Linked DNA regions of Homo sapiens. The protein of the gene in region 1 purifies or fractionates together with the protein of each later gene. This does not show direct contact. Each region holds a gene or a part of one and is shown on either strand. Other genes may lie near its edges.

Evidence for each region. Proteins that work in one complex are often made in the same cells at the same time.
Region 2: the proteins of FCN1 (region 1) and KIAA1549 purify together in Homo sapiens (affinity purification with mass spectrometry; 3 studies listed by BioGRID and IntAct, with this or other methods). This does not show direct contact.
Region 3: the proteins of FCN1 (region 1) and POTEF purify together in Homo sapiens (affinity purification with mass spectrometry; 3 studies listed by BioGRID and IntAct, with this or other methods). This does not show direct contact.

What each region holds. Positions count from the first base shown.
Region 1 is NC_000009.12:134,914,888-134,922,632, forward strand, and holds the start of FCN1 (ficolin-1 precursor), read right to left. Parts: upstream 3,026-7,745; 5' UTR 2,985-3,025; coding exon 2,882-2,984; intron 1,575-2,881; coding exon 1,461-1,574; intron 1-1,460.
Region 2 is NC_000007.14:138,915,369-138,922,393, reverse strand, and holds part of KIAA1549 (UPF0606 protein KIAA1549), read left to right. Parts: intron 1-2,955; coding exon 2,956-5,646; intron 5,647-7,025. UniProt on the Homo sapiens protein: May play a role in photoreceptor function.
Region 3 is NC_000002.12:130,105,202-130,112,226, forward strand, and holds part of POTEF (POTE ankyrin domain family member F), read right to left. Parts: intron 6,901-7,025; coding exon 6,794-6,900; intron 5,480-6,793; coding exon 5,342-5,479; intron 5,157-5,341; exon of another isoform or gene 4,086-5,156; intron 2,884-4,085; exon of another isoform or gene 2,879-2,883; coding exon 2,808-2,878; intron 2,606-2,807; exon of another isoform or gene 2,386-2,605; intron 1-2,385.

The DNA of each region.
Region 1 (7,745 bases):
AAGTCCTGACCCTCCCCCACTCTGCCTTGAACCCCTTCTGGTTCCAGGAGCTCTCAGAATTGCTAGCCATGGATTTAGCCTGGGGGTGACTGCAGATGGAGGTGAGGGATTGAGGGAGGGGCCTGCACCCCACCTTGGGCTCAAGGCAAGGTGCACCTTGCTCCTGTTTGTGCCTTGGGAGCAACCTGGGTTTCACACTCTGTTGACCATAAGCCTGGACCCAAGTCACCCACACAGAGCTCTACTGCCTAGCAAGGGACCAGGTTCTGGAACAAAGAATGCGTCCTCAGAGAGCCTCATCCTACCACGTCCCCACACGGAGAGGGTGGGCGCCACGTGCAGCCGCTGCTGCCAGGGAGGATCCGGTTCCACCGTGCGCCTGAGCTCCTGGGGTGTCACACAGCGCTCCACGTGGTTCTGGCCAGAAAGGTGACCCTCCCGTCCCCGATGCCAGCCAAGAGGCAGCCCCCAGCCCGCTCGCTGACCCCAGTGGCTGGGGAGAGTGTATGGGGGCTGGTTCTTGCTTTAGGGTATATTAGCCAGCCATGCCCACTGGTAGAAGCCTGGTTCAAGGGAAGTCTGAGCCAGACTTGATTCTTCTCCTGCCAGGGAAGGTCTTCCTCCCCAGTGTTCCCTCAGCAGGGGATCGGGACCGCACTCTCAGGTCCAGCCTGCGGAGTGGGCACAGAGGACCTGGCCCCGGACACCCACACGGAAGCCTAGACACGTCAGTGAAAGTCCAAGTCATAGGGACATTTGAGCTTGTCCCATCTACACTGGGACATCCCCACCAAGTGCTCCGCAGGCATCATCTTGAATGCGTCCAGGCATGGGGAGCTCACCCCCTAAGGCAGCGCCCTTTCTGAGTTTTTGTGCACGTCTGCCTTATGCCATGCTTAGGGGGACCCAAAACCACCCAAGGCAGGTGCCTGCTGTTCATTCTCCCATGTTCCCTGCAAATCCACATGCAGAGCTCAGGGCTCAGGATTCGGGTGCCCTCTGTGCCCTGAAGTAGACCAGTCCAAGTCCCAGCCCCACTCCTTACTGGTTTGTCAAGTAGGAAAGCCTGTGACCTCTTTGAGTCTCAGTTTTCCCATATGAGGCAGGTGCAGAAGAAAGCGGTCACCTCAATTTTCAGGTGAGAAGGTGGAGGGACACAGAGCTTAGAAGTCGTGCCAGTAGCTGAGCAAAGCTGGTATTGGATCAAGGACTAGGAGACAGAGCTACAGAAGCATGTCCAAATGTGAGCTCATGAAATAGTTAGGAAAGACCCTCCCTCCATTTCAGAACCCTGTTGGGCCCTGGGAGTCAGCTCTGTTCCTGGCTCTAGCAGGGGCCTGACCCAGGCTCTTGATCTAGGAACCACGGTGGGGGTGTTGCCCAACTCTGCATCCAGTTTCATAAAGAGCAAGAGCCAGTGCCCCTGCCATGCCTGGCCTCCCCACCCGGCCCGCACCTACCTCTCTCTCCAATGACACCTGCCTCTCCCTTTGGCCCTGGGGCCCCGGGCAGCCCCGGGCAGCCTCGGAGAATGGTGAGCTTGTCAGAGCCCTCCAGGCCCACCACCTTCACCTCTGCAGAGAAACACAGGTGCCCACTCAGTGCCTGGCCCAACAGTGGCTGGGAAGTGAGGTTTTCTGCTCTGCTGGGGCCTTGGTCTGTCCTCACCCCTCAGGCACTGGTGAGGCGGAGATGTGATGGGGGGCAGAGCTCTGGCTTTGGAGGCCACCCCGACCTAGGGGAGCCCCATCTCCTCAGTGCTGTGTGTCCTGCAGCAAGTAACTTAACTCCTCTGAGCTTTGTGCCCTGGGCTGCCAAGCGGGGATAATAACAAGGTTGCGGCCAGGATTTGGTTAAAGAATGTGCATTTTAAATCTCTTATTGTAATTTATGGCATTTAGAAAGAGCTTAATAAACAGCGGGCACTTTCAATAACTAATGACAATCAATATTTCTAAGAAACTTGGGGAATTGGGGCTGACAAAGCATTTTCCCTCCCAGACCTTGGGAATGTGGTTGTAGAATTACTGGGCTGGAAGGGGCTTTCTAGGTCCTCTGGAGAGGGGCAGTGTGGGGTCCAAGGACACAGAGCCAGGTGTGGCACAGCTGCAGCCAAACCAAAGTTGTTTACTTCTTTGAAAAAATATTTTTCATTTTGTTCATTACAAAATCTACACGCCCTGCTAAGGGCGCTCTTAGAGACCATGGAACGGAGCAGTGCTCTCACCGGAGACATGGCACTGCCATTTTTGGGGTATTTCCTTTCTGTGTTTCCAGTCCTCCTTCCACTAGAGCAGGCTGTAATTTACTATTTATGTTTCCTTCATAAATATGTTATCAGCCAGGGGCACCAGGCCGTCCTTAGGAGCAGTCTCTTGCTGAGCGTCACAGAACCACCTGCTCCTGAATCAGTGAGGGAAACACCTTACCACCGTTCAAACCCTTGTCCCTATCAACTGATTCCGACTCTCTTGGAGGAGAGCCAGAAATCTGCCTTTTTAACAAACCCCCCAAGTCCGTGTGGCAGCCACCGTATTAGAGGGTCTTAGAGTGCCTCCCTGGTAAGCCCGTAAGAAGATAAAGTCAACAGTATTTTCTTCCTTCTCAGTGACAGATTCCAGACCCACCTATGAAGCTCCAATGGGCAAATCCTGGGCTTTCGAGGCAGACAGACCTGGTGACATCCCTCCCCTATCCCTCCATGACCCTGGGCAATGCCTCAGCTGCCCTGAGCCTCCATGTCCTTGCCTGAGGATAAAACAGATCTGTTGGGCATCTTCACAGGAAGATGTGCATAAAAGGTTTTGCCTGGGACACCCGAGTGTCAGTGAGTGGGGTTGTTACCAGCTTTTAGGGACCAGAAAACCCAGGTCTGTCTCACCTGGACATGTGTCCGCAGCCTGGGCAGGCAGGTTCTTGATATGCAGGAACAAGACTAGCAGGACAGCGAGCCCCCGGGCCATGGTGGCTCCACTCAGCTCCATGCTCTCTGGCCTTTGACTCTGAAGAGTCCCCCAGCTCTAACAGGGCAGAGGAAACCAGCTCTCGCCTTGTGCCACAGTTTCTCAACTCCCTGGGGGACACCCACTTCCTATGGGCTGCTTAGTTGCACCAACAGGAGGTATGAGGTCATCTCAAAGGATGTTTCCTTCCACTAGGCTCCAGCAAGATGCCCACCCCATTGGGCTCTCTTCCCCCAGCAAAGACACCCTGCTCCCAGTCCAGAGAGCTCCTGAGACTCCTCTGCTGGAAAGCATCGGCTTTGCTTGTGGCTTAAGGAGAACACAGCCCCCACACCCCCTTTCCATTCCCCAGCTGTCCCCAAGCAATACTCGGAAACCTTGACCTTAACCTTGGGGGATAAGGAAGGTTTTGCTGAAGACGCTTCCTTGCCTCATCTGTTCCCAGAAAATTCAGGGTTTGTCCGTCATCAGGCACTTATCATGGATGGAGAGGAAAAAAATGTTGAGCACTTGTTATGTCCCAAATACTATTTCCATCATATCATCTTGCACCAGCCCCATTCGGTGGAGTAAATTATTTGAAAGTTACAGCTGGAGAAATTGAAGTCACTCCACTAGTAAGAGCCAGGCATTGGACTCAATTCTGTCTAACGCCTTGTAGATCACTGGGATTGCTCATTTCACCTGAAGGTGGGGATGCCTCTTGTTCCCCCAAATCCCTGAGGCCATGTTCCTACTCCGCATCTCGTGCTGTGAATCATGCTTAGCCAGGCCACGCTGTGGACACTTTGTGCGGGATTTTTAGAACGTATAGAAATAGTCACTAACGAGAGTCAGATGGTAGCAGGACTAAGGAGCAGGGAGAGGTGTTGTTTTGTGGTTTGCAACTTCTCTGAGCCAGCGTGTGTAGACTGGGTTTCCAAACTCAAGGGCTCCCCAGGTGGGAGAGAAGTGGAGGGGCGGCCCAGGGGTGGGGGATCCAGGAGACACAGGACCTTGTGTCCAGGCTCTCTGGGCACCACAACGACTCTCGACTGTGTGTGTTTGTGTGTGTTGGCTCCAGCCTGTTGAGAGACAACGGCAGGAGGCTTCATTGCCTCAGACACCGCTTAGTGTCCCTGAGCTACTGGCCCAGGCGGGAGAGGTCTGGGTGTCAGTGGTGCGGCCTCCTTTCTTGGAGAGGATCCAATTCAGGAGCAGCACTCACCTGGGATTGGGTCAGAACAGGGAGAAAGCCAGCAGGTCTGTGCCCCTCAATTCCATTTGCCAGCTGCCCCCTGGGTGTGAGGGGACCTCCTCTTCCTTGCAACATCAATAGGTTTATTTCAGGTGAGAAGTCAACACCACCTTCAGATATCAAGTCAATGTTCCCAAGAGTATGAAAGAATGCAAGATTCTGGCAAGTTAAAATATCTTAACATTGGATCAACAAAAGTCATTTGATTCCTGGCAATGGCAGTTTAGGTATTTGGGGGCATCCTATTAAGGACAAACAGACAAAACCTTTAAAAAGAGATTTGCTCGAAGGCACCGTCAAGCTAGCTATGTAGTAAAGGATTACTTTGCCAAGCTCTCAGGAGCCACAGAAATCTTAGAGAAGTGAAACTAGTAGTGGGGACCTCTTTTTGCACAGGGATTTGCCAATCTCCAAAAGAGAGGTGAGAAGTTGGGCAGTGATTTCACCATCTTGCAGAGCTGAAGGTCAAAGACTGGGGCCTACGGCCTGCCAAAGGTATGGGTTTGGGGTTGGCTTTCAGAAGGGCTGCACCCTAGCAATAGGATGAGTGAGCAACAACCAACATTCACAAGGGCTGCAAACTGGTTTTGAGACATCTAAGTGTCCCAGGAAAGGAATCTCAACTCCTGGAATTATTGCTCATGCCCCCAGGCTCCTTGCTGAAAGAAACAAAAATCTTCTCTGAAGGAGAATGACATCATCCCAGGTCATTATTTCTGCAAAGTGTTTTATTTTTTTCAAATGAAATGTTAAAACACAATCAACGATAACCAGGCTCATGGGAATAAAAGACAATGTGTATAAGGACCAACAGAAACAACAGAATATAGAAAGAGGTCTTTGGAAGCTGTGGATACAGAAGTTACAACATAATTAACAGGAAAAATGGAAAACCATCCTCAGAGACTGAGAACAAATAAGGATGCTTGTCATCACCACTGTGGTCAACATTGTATTGCATGTCACTGTCCAGTGCAGTAGGCAAGAGAACAAAACCATAAAAAGATTGGAAAGGCAGACACAAAGTTGTTATTTTCAGAAGACATGATTGAGGATGTAGAAAATTCTAGAGTTTCTACAGATAAACTAGCAGAATAAAAAGTTTAGCAAAAATCAATTGTGCTTCTAAAAACTAGCCTCAAAGAATTTAAAAATGAAATTTAAAAAATTTGCATCAGCAACACCAAATTCAAATAACTGTGAATAAGTCTAACAACATCCATGCTGGTCTTCTGTGTACAAAACTATCAAATAGGAACAGAAAGACCTAAAAGAAGATTAAAATAATTAGAAGGATATTCTATATGTGTGGATTAGAATACCAAATATAGGAAAAACATTCATCTTCTCTTAATTTATCTAAATATCCACTGTATTATCAATTAAACTACCATTTTCTGTGACAATTGACATGGTGAATTTAAAATTTATATAAAGGGCCGGGTGCAGTGGCTCACACCTGTAATCCCATCACTTTAGGAGGCTGAGACAGGTAGATTACTTGAGGTCAGGAATTCAAGACCAGCCTGGCCAACATGGTAAAACCCTGTCTCTACTAAAAATACAAAAATTAGCTAGGCATGATGGTGGGCACCTGTAAACCCAGCTACTTAGGAGGCTGAGACAGGAGAATTGCTTGAACCCAGGAGGCGGAGGTTGCAGTGAGCCAAGATCGAGCCACTGTACTCCAGCCTGGACGACAGAGTGAGATTCCATCTCAAAAAATATATAATATATATATTTAGCAGGGTGTGGTGGTACATGCCTGTAGTCCCAGCTACTCAGGAGGCTGAGGTGGGAGAATTGCTTGAACCCGGGAGGTGGAGGTTGCAGTGAGCCGAGATTGCACCACTGCACTCCAGCCTGGGCAACAGAGTGAAACTCTGTCTAAATAAATAAACAAATAAATAAATAAATAAATAAAATTTATATAAAGGCAAGAGGCTGATAGCCATGCTATTCTTGAGCAAGAAAAAACAAGGGTGAGTTGCTTGAAGTGACACCAGCAGTCATTATCAAGCGATAGTGATGGAGACAGTGTGGGGCTGGCTTAGGCGTACACAGCAAACCTAGGGAAGTGAGTAGGGAGTGCAGAAGCAAATCCAGGCACATACGGACCCTAGATTTATGACATGGTGGCTCTAAAGAGCAATAGTGAAAGAATAAACTTTCAATGAGTGGCACAAACTACTGGAGAGTCATATGGAAAAACAAGAAGTTACACTTGACTTTTATCAGATGAAAAAAAAATCCACATCAGGAGAAGGGTAGACCCAAATGTGAGAGGGAAAACAGCAGTTTTAGATCATATTATAAGATCTCCAATAGCCTTGCAGTTATTTTAAATAAGATGGAAAACCACAAACCATAAAGGACAAGTGGAAAAATTGATCATGAAAATAGTATTATTTCTTTTTCAAAATACACCACCGTGGGAGGGAAAAGACGAGCCAGGGTGAGGGAAGAGAGGTTTCAACACACAGAAGTGACAAAAGGCTTGTATCCAGAATAAAGGGTTTCTGTAAATCAACGATGTTGTAGAAAGTGGGAAAGTGACTTCAACAAACGCTTATAAAAGATAATATTTAATAGATGATGGAAGTATGAAAACATGCTCAACTTCATAACTAATCCAAGAAATGAAAACTTAAATCTCATGAGATGACTGCAGACACTAAAATTTTTCTAAACAGCCAACTCTGCAAGGTTTTGGTGAAGAAGTGTCAGAAACCTTGGTACAAGCACTTCGGAAAACTGGCAGTATTCCCAACAATTCCCTACGACCAGCATATTCCATAACCAGCGATGTTCAGCTCAGTTCTACTCAACAGAGAGGTGTGCCCAGCTGGAAAGAAGACACGTGTGAAAATGTCCAGCCCCACGCCGGAAACAACCCAAACGTCCATCCGCAGCAGAATGGGGCCGTCAGCTGAGGTTCGTTCATACTGGAGCATCCTGTAGACCCATAAAATGATCGGATTCCAGCTTCACGCAAAAGCTTTGTTGAAATCCGCAAGCACACGGAGCATCCAGGGCGCCAGCACTAAGGCATGCGAACTGTTCATTTGCATCTGTACAGAGTTTGAAAGTGGGCAAAACTGAACAGCAGTGTGAAGGAATGCATGCTCGGTGGCAACGTGGAGAAAAAGGCCCAGACCATGCCAGTGAGATGACCGCTCCCTTAGCAGGGGCCAGTGAGACGACCGCTCCCTTAGGAGGGGGAGCCCTTAGGCCTGGAAGGGGCACGGGGGGCTGGAGATGGGTTTTGGCTTCATTGGGTGATGCAGGTTTAGTTTATGCACTCTGGTGAATGGGTGTTAAATTTCACTTAAAAGAGCAAGCTTAAATAAACTATTTAAGTAAAATAAATAGAACACATAAGGGTCACCATCGTCCTGTATTGCTCCCACCACAAGCTATAGCCCAGCTGTCTCTGGGAGGTTTGGGGATGTTGAATGCCTGCTGGTTCACTTCCCTGTTGCAGCTCAGGCTTCTGGGAGGTTGAGCAACCCCTAGCCTGGCTGTTGCTTCACGTGCTGGGTCTG
Region 2 (7,025 bases), on another chromosome or scaffold:
CTTTGCTTTCCTATGTATTTTATAATTTTTACTTCTGTGCTCTGCAACTCTAGCTGCAGGAATACTTTGAAACCAGACTGTGAATATGTTCTTCTGGGTGTGATTTATGTTAGTTTCTGACAGGCGCTGGAGACCTGGTCCACTTTAAATTATGACTCTAAGCATACAGTTGTTAGGACTATACAAGTAGTATAGGTTCCACACTCGGGATGACGTTTCGTACAATAGCTATACAAAGTCAGAGCTGAGACATATACTTTTCCCTTGTTTGGCTTAAACAGCAGAAATTGATTGTCTCACCGTTCTGGAGGCTAGAAGTCCAAGTTCAAGGGTGGCTTCCTTCTGAAGCCTGTGAGGGAGAATCTGCTTCAGGGCTGTCCCCTAGCTGCTGGTGATTTGCTGTCAATCTTTGCTGTTCCTTGACTTGTAGACGCATCATCATGCTCTCTGCCTTCATCTTCACATGGTGTTCTCCTTCTGTGTATGTCTGTGTCCAAATTTCTGCCTTTTTTTATTTTTATTTTTTTTTGAGACGGAGTCTCACTTTGTCTCCCAGGCTGGAGTGCAGTGGTGCAATCACGGCTCTCTGAACCCTCCGCCTCCTGGGTTCAAGCGATTCTCCTGCCTCAGCCTCCTGAGTAGCTGGGATGACAGGTGTGTGCCACCATACCCGGCTAATTTTTGTATTTTTAGTGGAGATGGGGTTTTGCCACGTTGGCCAGGCTGGACTCGAACTCCTGACCTCATGATCCGCCCTCCTCGGCCTTCCAAAGTGCTGGGATTACAGGCCTGAGCCACCGCGCCTGGCCCAAATTTCCATCTTTTATACGGTCACCAGTATATTAGATGAGGGACCCACCCTACTTCAGTATGACCGCATCTCAGCTAATTACATCTACACTGACCCTGTTTCCGAATATGGTCATATTGTGAGGTCCTGGGATTTCAACATAGGAATATTGGGAGCACGTAATACATAAGCCATAGCAGTGTCTTAACCTGGGTTTTCCGCCAGAAAGCAAAGTCTGAGACGTGGGTTTATGTGCATATTTTATTCTAGGACATGATCCTGAGGAACAGAAGTGAGAGACTGAGGAGAGTTCAACAGGGAAAAGGGAAAGTCAGTCCAAGGTGTTCTCAAGTCAGACACTATTAGAAACCGATGCCTGTTTTTGCTGTCTTCTGAAAAGTGGATATTTTTCTTCCTAATTCACTCTTTCCCTGAGATTATGACACTTCCTGGGCCTCCACTTTTGGAAAATGGTCTTCAGTTGGGTTCTTTCCTTATCTAGGCTAACACTTGTCCCTCATCTCCGTTGTGGCCTAAACAACAGGCCAGCTGGTCCAGTACCTGCCTTGGGTCCCCAGTCACTGCCCTTGAGCAGCTCCTGTTTTATTCCTGGATTCAGCACGTTCCCCTTACTGTCTTGCAGGCCATCCAGTCACTTAGAAGATGGTTTTTAAACATTTATTAAGCAATCTTAAATGTTCTGAAGTAGACAGTTTCAAGATCTCTAGTCTGCCATGTTGCTAGAAACAGAATAGAAATGACTTACTTAAAAAAATAGAGTAAATTCAAGACTGTCCTTATACCATTTCACACAGGTATGTTCTGATAGACTGTTGGGATTAGAGAAACGAGGTGTTGTTATGCATTTTGATAGTTGCTCAGTTCTCAGCCTGGGCTGCAGAGGACAGTCCCTGGGCCCTGGGCTTTCATCAGTGGCTGGGCCATCACTTGTCCTTTTTCTCTAGGCTATGTCATACCTGAATTATCGGTGGAGAGGCCTCAACTTACTAAATGATAATGACAGCAGTCACAAGTTAAGGAATACAAAAGTTTGAATGGATGATGGGATAATGTTGGCTTTTGTTGTCAGAACTTGGTATCCTTGGATTTCATTCATTCATTCATTCATTCATTCATCAATCCAAGTGATGTCAATTGAGCTCCTAGCACTTATTGTGCTAGGCACTGGGGAGACAGGTAAACAATGCCTGTCCTTAGGAAGCCCAGAATCTAGTGATCAGATAGTTCATTTCAGTGGGCATGATAAGGACAGGGAGAAGCCTAGGGAGAGGCACGAATCCAACTTCAGAGCATCGAGGATGAAGCTCATATCTGTGCTGCATCTGAAGGGCCAGAAGGAGCCATCCATATAGAGAGCTGGGGAAGGGCATTCCAGGCGGGGGTGAGAGGATCCATCCATGTAGAGAGCTGGGAAGGGCATTCCAGGCGGGGGTGAGAATGTGCACAGCCATGGAGGCCAGAGAGTGTTTGGGTTTGGGGCACTGCAGGTGCCAGAGCATAGCTGGGAAGGCCTAGAGTGGGGCAGGAAATGGTGAAAGCTGAGGCTGCAGGAAGCCTGGGGCCTTCATGTGGAAGCCTCAGCAACTGTGTTGGGGAGCACAGCTGAGGAACTGGGGAACTCTCTTACTTGGGTAGTGAGAGATGCAATGAGTTGTCATGTTCATTTCTCGTAGCAGCCAGCTCCTATCACTGAAGAGAAAACACACAGGCCTTGGAGTCAAGGAAGCCTTATATTCAGATTCCAGTTCCACTCTGTCTGGGTGGTCTTATAATTGATTTATTTACCTTCTGGAAACCTTTCTTTACTCATGTCATAAATGAGAGAAAATGGACTGAACAGCCCCCTCTGTTTCCAGTATCCTACGGTTCTGTGGGAAAAACTGTAAATATGCCCTCCCCACCCCCACACATACACAGCTTAGGTAAAAACAGTGCCCAAGTTTAGGAATATTTGCAGATATTGTCCTGATGGTAATTCTGTCAATTTCTCGTTTCCAGCTAGCTGTTTAACTTCTGACGGTGATTCATGGATATTTATGGTGAATGGATGTTTGTTAAATGAGTAAATTCTCATGCCTGAAACAAAACGTTAGCTGTGTGACTTCCAATGCATTGCACTAACCCAGCTCTGATTTTCTTGATAGATGAGCTCTCTCCGGAACAGCACAACCTTTCTTTATACTCCATGGAGCTCGTGCTGAAGAAAAGCACTGGGCACAGCGCTGCACAAGTGGCCTTAACAGAAACTGCTCCCGGCTCCCAGCACAGCAGTCCTCTCCATGTCACAGCCCCGCCGTCTGCCACTACTTTTGATACAGCCTTTTTTAACCAAGGAAAACAGACCAAAAGTACAGCAGATCCCAGCATCTTTGTGGCAACTTACGTGTCAGTGACGAGTAAAGAGGTGGCCGTCAATGACGATGAGATGGATAACTTTCTGCCAGATACTCACTGGACCACTCCACGGATGGTTTCTCCAATACAGTATATCACAGTCAGCCCACCAGGGCTGCCCAGGGAAGCATTAGAACCTATGCTCACTCCATCATTACCCATGGTTTCTTTACAAGATGAAGAAGTGACATCGGGCTGGCAGAACACAACGCGACAACCAGCGGCATATGCTGAGTCCGCCAGTCATTTCCACACCTTTCGGTCAGCTTTTCGCACCTCTGAGGGCATCGTTCCAACTCCTGGCAGGAATTTGGTGCTTTATCCTACTGATGCTTACAGTCATTTATCAAGCAGGACTCTGCCAGAGATTGTGGCTTCCCTAACAGAGGGTGTGGAAACCACCCTTTTTTTAAGCTCCCGGTCTTTAATGCCACAGCCGTTAGGCGACGGCATTACTATACCGTTGCCCTCCTTGGGGGAGGTCTCACAGCCTCCAGAGGAGGTTTGGGCCACAAGTGCAGACAGATACACTGATGTGACCACTGTGTTGAGTCAAAGCCTAGAAGAAACCATCTCTCCAAGAACATACCCCACTGTGACTGCATCGCACGCAGCCCTTGCATTCAGCAGGACACATTCTCCATTGCTTTCAACTCCTCTTGCATTTGCGTCCTCTGCTTCACCAACTGATGTTTCATCTAACCCCTTTCTCCCTAGCGACTCCAGCAAAACATCCGAATTGCATAGCAATTCAGCCCTCCCCGGTCCTGTGGACAACACTCATATCCTGAGCCCGGTGTCCTCATTCAGACCATACACTTGGTGTGCGGCCTGCACTGTGCCTTCACCTCAGCAAGTTCTGGCCACGAGCCTCATGGAGAAAGACGTGGGATCAGGGGATGGTGCCGAGACTCTGTGCATGACCGTGCTGGAAGAAAGCAGCATCTCTCTAATGAGTAGCGTCGTAGCAGACTTCTCTGAATTTGAGGAAGATCCTCAAGTATTTAATACGCTTTTCCCCTCCAGACCTATCGTCCCACTTTCTTCTAGATCCATGGAAATCTCAGAGACGAGTGTTGGCATTTCTGCCGAGGTGGATATGAGTAGTGTTACAACCACACAGGTTCCCCCTGCCCACGGCCGCCTCTCTGTGCCGGCGTCACTTGATCCTACTGCTGGCTCCTTGTCTGTTGCTGAAACCCAAGTGACGCCATCCAGCGTGACCACTGCATTTTTCTCGGTCATCACCAGCATTCTCCTTGACTCATCTTTCTCTGTCATAGCAAACAAAAACACACCGTCGCTTGCCGTCAGAGACCCGAGTGTTTTTACGCCTTATAGTCTGGTTCCTTCAGTGGAGTCTTCACTTTTCTCTGACCAAGAACGTTCCAGTTTTTCTGAGCATAAACCCAGAGGTGCTTTGGATTTTGCATCCAGCTTTTTCTCAACACCCCCGCTGGAACTCAGCGGCTCCATCTCTTCGCCTTCGGAAGCACCTGCGTCTCTGTCTCTGATGCCGAGTGACTTGTCCCCCTTCACATCTCAGTCTTTTTCTCCCTTGGTTGAGACATTTACATTGTTTGACTCTAGTGATCTGCAGTCATCTCAGCTGTCTCTTCCCAGTTCCACAAATCTTGAGTTTTCGCAGCTCCAGCCAAGTTCCGAGCTGCCTTTAAACACCATCATGTTGCTACCTAGCCGTTCTGAGGTGTCACCATGGTCAAGCTTCCCTTCTGATTCTCTCGAGTTTGTTGAAGCGTCTACGGTTTCACTGACGGATTCAGAAGCTCATTTTACCTCAGCTTTCATTGAAACTACCTCCTATCTTGAGTCTTCACTCATTTCCCATGAATCCGCAGTCACTGCACTGGTGCCCCCCGGCTCTGAGTCTTTTGACATTTTGACTGCCGGGATTCAAGCAACATCACCATTGACCACTGTCCACACAACGCCCATTTTAACTGAGTCTTCTTTGTTCTCAACTCTGACACCTCCTGACGACCAAATCAGTGCTCTAGACGGTCACGTGTCTGTCCTGGCCTCTTTCTCCAAAGCCATTCCCACTGGTACGGTGTTGATCACTGACGCGTACCTGCCATCAGGATCCTCGTTTGTTTCTGAAGCAACCCCCTTCCCTCTGCCCACAGAGCTGACCGTCGTGGGCCCATCACTCACACCCACAGAGGTGCCACTGAACACCTCCACGGAAGTGAGCACAACCAGCACCGGTGCTGCCACTGGTGGTCCCCTCGACTCCACCCTGATGGGTGACGCCGCAAGTCAGAGCCCCCCAGAGAGTAGTGCTGCTCCTCCCCTGCCATCCCTGCGTCCCGTGACTGCCTTCACTCTCGAAGCAACAGTCGACACACCAACACTGGCTACTGCCAAGCCGCCATATGTTTGTGATATCACAGTCCCCGATGCCTATCTGATCACAACTGGTAAGGCCCAGCTTCCTGCCGCCTCTCTGGGGTGGGCAATCTTTCTAAGGAGCTTGTGTGCAGTGCCTGTGAGGCTTGGAGCTTCATGGTTAAGAGCAGAGGCGCTGGGCTCAGTTAACTCCCAGGTAGTACTCCTATGCTTACCTCCTGCGAGTTCTCAGAACAGTTATTTATCCTCTCTAATCGTCTGCTGCCTCACCCATTAAACAAGGAGCTTAGTTAAACCTGCTTCATTGGGCTGTTGTTCAGATGTAAATGCGTTAGTCCCTGCAGAACGCTCAGCCCTTGCCTAGTACATCAGAGGCATGCACGGGATGGTGCATATTAGTCAGCAGTCACAAGGAGAATAAATATTAGAACAAATACAAGAACTAAACAAGCCTTGGAAGTTCTTGGTAGGATCTTTGTCCTACCATAACCCAGTAGGTGCATGGATGACATAGTTTAAACAAAATACTTTTTTGTTTAATTCAAGCAATGAGTTGGGCAACTATGTAAGGGCAACCCTTGCAATTTCTTACTCATTTACTCTTCTTACTTTTCCTTGAAAGGAGACTGCACTTTGCTCTCATAGGTCCCTGTAAATGCCCCTTGGGTCCCGAGGAAAGAAAAGTAAAGTGACTCTTTGCTCTTATAGGTCCCTGTAAATGCTCCTTGGGTCCCGAGGAAAGAAAAGTAGTGACTAAATATCCTCTGAATCCAGTATCAGCCTTTGGTCTCCTCCCCACCACAGCCTGGGTTGCTAGCAGACTGGCCAGCAGCTTCCCTTGCAGTTGCATGGCTGCTGTGGCCGCGTGAAGCTGGTGCCCACCTGAGGGCATGCCTGAGAGGTAGACTGATTTCAAGGGTCATGTCCCGCGACGGTGGCCCGCTTGGTCAGGGTCTCTGCATTTTTCCTCATGAGACATGACAGGTGTATGTGGTCTCGAGGGTCATGACTGTGTGCTGAACCACAGCCTGGTGGTGACGAGCAGCCTGTCCTCTGTTTTGATTTTGGTAGGAGTGGAGGACAGAAATGAAAAAGGGGACGAAAACGGCAGAAGAGGTAGGGAGGAGTGGGGTGGAGTGGACCGGGAAGGAGAGGAGCAGAGAATGTGGAAGGGGGAGAAGGAGGAGAACACGCTGGGTCTTTTCCTCTCTGTGGTCGGGGTTGCTGGGAGCCTCTGCTCACTGTGACAGTGCCACATCCCTCTGGGCAGGTGGGAGCGAGGATCCTGATGGCAGGTACACGTCAGTGATCAACACCCTACCTGTGGGAATGGCTTTGGAGAATGAGTCCAGGACAGCCTTTGCTCCCCACACGCCAAAGGGAAACATTCGTTATTCCACATGGCAAGTAATGATTGAGCACCTAGTATGTGTGAGGTGCTTCTGGAAGC
Region 3 (7,025 bases), on another chromosome or scaffold:
TACAAAATGGCTTTTATTTAAAAAAAAGCCTGCCAACTATTAATGTTATTTCTTACATAAAAAAAATTAAGCAAAACAAATGAAAAAAGCATAACACCAAAAAAACAAAGGCCAACATATTAAAACAAGTAGTTGAGATTCCTAACTTTATGTATTTCACTAAGGACGGGTGAAAACCTTGTAATACATTGATGCTACTCCAAGGATGTATGACAAGGAAACTATAGCTGACTACTGCGAAAACTTCCTTTGTCTCCTGGTTTCTTTACATGGTAAAGAACCTTCCATCAATCCCAGCAAACTATAGGCCACAGGCCAAATCCAATCTGCCTTATGGCTTTGTAAATAAAGTTTTATAGGAGCTCAGTCATGCCTGTTTGCTTACATATAATCATGGTGGCTTTCACACTACAACAGCAGACAACAGCAGGGTTAAGTAGATATGACAGAGACCACATAGTCTAAAATATTGCCCACCTGGCCATTTACAGAAAAAGCTTGCTAACCCGTTTTACACCATAACCAGAATGCCTTAATACTCAAATTTAATCTTGTGACTCCCCTGCTCAAATTTCTCCAATGAGCCCCTGCAGCACACATTGTTGGCTCCCTATCAATAGCCATTCCTTATTCTTTCTTGAAGAAGAAATCCAAGTCTATTGGGATATTTATTATCCCAATCCCCCTCCTCAGCCTCAGAAACAGAAATGTTTATTCTAAGCTAATCAGGTATTTACCTTCCCAGTGCCTGGTTTGGGAATGAGCATGTGGTGTGACCCAGCCAGTGAAATGTTACAGGAAGCCCTTTGCATGCTTCTAAGTTTTCTCCCTGTTTAAAAGACACATGTGAAGAAAAGCAGCCCTTGCGATGTTGTGTTGTGAGAACAAGATGTTTGGAGCTGCTGCGGATTAGCCAACCATGAAAGGAGACGTGAATAAAACACTGTCAACAGCACAGCTGAAAGAGGGAAAAGTGGGATCCTAGGATATCAATGAACAACCAAAACAACTCTGGTTCCTACTGTTTTAGCCACTGTTCATCTAGTATTTGCAGTCCAAAGCATTCTACCCAGTAAATTTCCCATGGCACACAGGATAAGACCTACTCATTTCTATAGTATTAAAAAGTCTATCATAAACTTGCCTTAGCTAAGTATTCACCTCATTCCCAACCTCTCGTATCACACACTTTTGGTACTAGCAAAAGTGAACTGCTCAGAAACCCTGCCATGTTCACTCAAGCATCTTGTCTTTTGCACTTGCTGCTCTTCCTCCCAAACAGGCAATCTCATTAGATGTTCCTTCTGGCAAACACACGACCTCGCTGCATGTTCCTTCTGCCAAACATTCTTCTTCTGCTTCTTTACCTAGAAAAATTCTTCTCTCTCTGCATGCTTACCTTAAATCATACCTACTTTTTCCCAAAACTTTCATTCCTCATCACATATGTCTGGCACATAATCAATATATAATAAATCATAATTATAAGCTTCCAGTGGGCATCTAGCACACAGTAAGCACTGAATAAAGTAGTAAAATAATGAAAATGACAATGATAACAAAAAGCTCCTGTCTGTATTTTTAATTGTTTGTGGTCTATAGCATTAGAAAAATGGTTACTATCTAAAAGACATTTGATAGTTATATGTTAAGTGGACAAGTGAAAACATAAATAGAAATGTTTTCTTTGTAAATTCTGTTGAAAAAGCACAGAAATGAAATGGAGACAGCTCTATTATGAGCACCTTAAAGATCAAAACTACATCTATTCCATCTTTGTCTCCTGCAACTTATAAAACCTAACTTACAAAAGCTCTTTGATAAATAGATGACTAAATTAAAGGTGTCCTCACACAGTTTGGACAATATAATGTATTAGGTGTCCACAACCAGGTAGCATACTAGCATTTTTGTTAGCGTGAAACGTTTTTCTGCTTTTATTATAATCTGCTGAGCCTAGAGTTGGGCAATTTGTATATTTATTATGACAATCTTTTGGCAAATGGTAGCAGAGCATCTTGTTCTAACAAAATTACTGTTATGATGACAATTAACCAGCAGGTAGAAGAACACATCTTGTTCCAACAAAGTAAATATATCTCTTTCCAACTTCAAATGAGGAGGAATGAAGTCAGTAATAGTGAGAACTTATTGGGACAAGCATATGTAACATGACTTGTGCTTCAGTGTTCTTTTGTGATCAAAAATTCCTTACTTTTACTTTTTTATCTATGGTAGGACCACGCAGAGCAGGGGTCCTCAACTCCCAGGCCACAGACTCATACCAGTCCATGGACTATTATGAACCACACCACACAGGAGGAGGTGAGCAGCAGGCAAGCCAGGGAAGCTTCATCTGTATTTACAGCCACTCCTTATGGCTCATATTACAGCCTCTACTCTGCCTCCAGTCAGATCAGTGATAGCATTAGATACTCATTGGAGCATGAACCCTGTTGTGAACTGCCCATCTGAGGGATCTAGGTTGTGTGCTTCGTATGAGAATCTAATGCCTGATGATCTGTCACTGTCTCACTTTGCCCCCAGATGAGACCATCCAGTTGCAGAAAAATAAGTTCAGAGCTTCCACGGATTCTACATTATGGTAAGTTGTATAATTATTTCATTATATATTACAATGTGATAATAATATAAAGTAGCACAATAAATGTAACATGATTGAATAATCCTGAAACCATCCCCACCCTCCCCCAGCCCATGGAAAAATTGTCTTCCACAAAACCGGTCCCTGGTGTCAAAAAGATTGGGGACAACTGACTAAAGTAATTCACTATCACAAGTCTTACCTGGATTGCTGTTTTCAGAAGAGATTTTTAGCATCTGTTTTTCTTTGTAGTCAGAAAGTAACTGGCAAATTCTATGTATAAAAATGTAATAAACCAAATTACTATTTTAATACTGATATAAAAAAACTTACCAAATGTAGAATTATTAAGAGTATTTCAAACAATATCAGAATAACAGAACTTAATAGTATTATCCCACCCACTTGTGAGTACATTCTACAAACTTCTCTTTAAGCTTCTAATTAAAGAAGAAAAAAATGTAAGGTGAAATAGTCATAAATCGAGGGCACTGTGACCCAGTAAATTAGCTAGCATTAGCATGACATAATAGAAAGTGTCCCAACTCTGCATAAGTCCTAGCTCCATAATGAACAGCTATTTGTTCTTGGACAACTTGCTTCTCTTAGGCTCAATGTCTTCTTCAACAAAGTGAGGACTTTGCTGCCTTATTTCACTAGGTTGTTATAAAGATTTAACGAGATAACATTTTTTAAATGCTCAGAGAAATAGTAAAGCAATGGAATAATCTGTTCCTAAACTTTATGACTAAAATTATCTTGGAATCCCAAATAAAACCCAATGCGTATTTTGTTCATAGGTTCTAATATGCAAATGTTGTAGTTTTCAGAAAATGTTATTAAGTCCTAATTTTGCTTCTTAGTTGTCCTACTCTTTATGGCTTATAATTCAGGGCATCTCAACTATGTCATAGTTTATAACTAAATTTATTCATAAATATCTCATTAAAGTAGATAATGTGATTGTCCACTATTACGGAGTTGATCAATCACACCAAGGGCAGAAAAACCAATGGATGTTAAGACCTGACTTGGACCAACGATCCTTCTCTACCGACTCAAACTCTCAGCCAGTAGATGTCTGTTAGGATAATGCTTTATATTGATGTTCAATTCCAGCTGACATGGGAGACCAAAAGTCTACTTTTATTTTTTTTTTAGTTTCCACGGAGAAGTAGCAAGCTGACATTCTGTAATTTTCGACATACATACTAACAATATATTTTGCACGGAACATGTTATTCAGCTCAAAGTCATCTCATAGACCATCTTACATGACTATTTTTGCAGCACAAATCACAATTTCAATATTTGGGTGGCACCCATTTTGCTTTGATTCACACTATTTCCTCAGAGCTAGTCAGCAAAAATAGTCAAATGACCTTCCAGTGACTGCACAAAATATGGAATGCTTCAAAGATCTGTCCTGCCTCCTTATGCAGAAGCCACGCTAACTTTCCCCGTATTGTTCCAATTTTAGGATATGTGCCGCCGAAGCAAGCACAAAGCCCTACTTTTACATATGATTAGTGATGCGTCATGGACAAGGCTTGGCTCTGTGAAGTCCAACTAACCTACTTGAGATTCTGAGAATTCTCTTCAATGGCTTCCTGTGAGCTAGAGTTTGAAAATATCTTAAAATCTTGAGCTAGAGATGGAAGTAGCTCCGATAATTTTCATTATCATGTAAATCAGATCACTCAAGGGGCCAACCACAGCTGGGAGCCACTGCTCAGGGCAAGGTTCATACGGGACTTTCTACTGCCCAAGGTTCTATACAGGATATAAAGGTGCCTCACAGTACAGATCTGGTAGCAAAGAGGAAACAGACACTGACCTCCTTCTGCCACATTATTTGAACCCCTCTCACCCTTTAGAACAAGCCCACCTAACATCTGCCAGAGAAAAGACCAACAACAGCCTCAAAGGATCTCTTACCATGAAGGTCTCAGCTAATTCCTGGCTAAGATGTGGGTTCCACATTAGGTTCTGAATATGCGGGGAAGGGTCAATTTGGTCACTTTGTGTGCGGATAAAGTCAGGATGCCCAGCGGCCAGAGCAGGGGGCTGGTGCTCTGGGAACAATGGCTGAGCATATAAGCATAGGTATGGGAATTAAAAAACATCAAAGTCACTGTATGAATCGCCATGAAGACTTGAGGGATCTGAATCTACTGATTCATCTTAAGGCAGCAGGACCAGTTTGAGTGGCCACAAAGCAGCAACAGAATCAACGGAAACAACAGAATGATTGCAATGTCTTTTTTCCTCCTCCTTCTGACTTGATAAAAGGGACTGTCTTCCTTGGATTTAGTGAACTCCTTCGGTTCTTGAAAAATTCAAGGAGTATGTAGGACATAGTCCCCAGAAGACAGTACAAGACTTTCCGCTAAACTGGACATTTCAAGACCCAAATAACTAATCAGAAAAATTAAAGATGTGACACTATTTTTTATCCCTGCATAGGTGTTACACTTGGATCAAATGAACAATGCTGGGATCTCTAAGGATAAAGATCTTAAAAGTCCTGAGATAAAGAATCCCGCACCCATTGGTACTTCTAACTTGTCTTGCTTTTTGTCTGATTTCTGGCTGATGCAGGGGACTAAAACTCACTGCCACGCGAAAACTACCTGAACCAAACTATGACATCTCACCTGATATGTGAGATGCAACTGTTATAATTATTTTAAACCTCAATTCAGCATTAACTAGCCTTTTAATGTAAACACTTACACATGATGATGACTAGAAACAGCATACTCTCTGGCCGTCTGTCCAGATAGATCTTGAGAAGATACATCAATATTTTGCTCAAGTAGAAGGCTGACTATACTTGCTGATCCACAACATACAGCAAGTATGAGAGCAGTTCTAAAATGACAGAGATAGGAACTGTAATAAAGTTATTTTTAAAGCTAATTTGATATACTTTACCAATGTAACATCTTGCCTGTCTGTGCAGAATCAAACATTTACATGCACTAAAAGACATAAGCAACCTGAGTGCTCAAGTGTTCATCTTTGTAAAATGCCACCAAGGTTAAAAGGAAGGGACCAAAAAAAACCCTCTTATCTCAGTGGGGTATTGCATAGCAGAAGCTACTAATTTAAAGTCCTTTGATGGGCAAGAAACAATGTTAGGGCCACTTATCTGAGGTGGACAAAGATTTAAGTGAAGATTTTGTCACAGCTTCCCTAGACTGACATGCTGTAATAGAAAATCAGCTAGGGGGTAAGAGAAATAAGAGCTCTCTGCATGCTCAAAGCAGTAATAATAATGGTAAGAATAGTAGTCATAGGAGTTTCAGTTAATGGTGCCAATAACCATGTGCTAGGCACTGAATTAAATGCCACATATATCTTTCTTACTTATGCACAGCCAACTTTGAAGGATATATTCTCCTACTTTTCATATATGACAACATATTTGGTGGTAAATAACGTCCCCAAGGTCACACACCTAGCAAGTAAGAAAGTTACTAATTAAACCCAGTCTTGTGTGAATCCAAAGCCTAGCTCTTTTCTCTTTATCACCCACGTACGGCTTGTCTTCATTAAAGGAAAAGTGTATCCACTTAAAACTATCTTCACTCCCTCTCTCCATACCAATTAAAAATAAAAACATCAAAATACACTGGAAAAACAAAAGGAAAAAAGCTGTTGAACCCACAGTATGTGGGAACAGCAATTAATTGTTATGTAGGGATAAGCTAACACTAATATTCTTCAAAGAAAGCAACTTAAAGCAAAGTCATTAAAAAGACAAAAGGATTTTCAACCCCTATTTATGTTTAATACAGCATATTTAATGGAAAAGCATGTAAGACACAGGTTAAAAACTATTAGAAAGGGTTAAGAAGTTCAATACTGAGTCATAAAGTAAACTAAAAGTTAAAGTTCAAACTTCATAAAATTAATATGAAATCCTTTAAGCTAACATAAGATCATGTAACCAAAAATGTCACATAACAAATAACATCAGTCAATATAATAAGAGAAGATGAATCCTACTAAAACTGTTCTTTATGTTGCCCAGCCCAAGTAATTGTTTTTCTACCTAACTGATTTGTGTTGATACTGATCACTACATCCCAGTAAGTATACATTAATCTTATTAATTTAATATTTATGACTTGAGTGACTGCTGTCCATCTACAACACACAGATTAAAAGAAAGAACTATACCTTCCATATCTATCCAGTGCATTTAAATTCGCTTTTTTCTTAATTAAAAATTTCACGACTTGCTGTTTTTGCTCATGTACACCAAGTAACAGTGGTGTGAGGCCATGCTGTAAAACAATATAAAGCAAAAACCTATGTAATTCAAAAAAGTACATATTCCTCAACCGAAGTGGAAACTTTATATAAGATCTTATGGACTTACACGCATAGAAGTAAATAAAATGTAGTCACT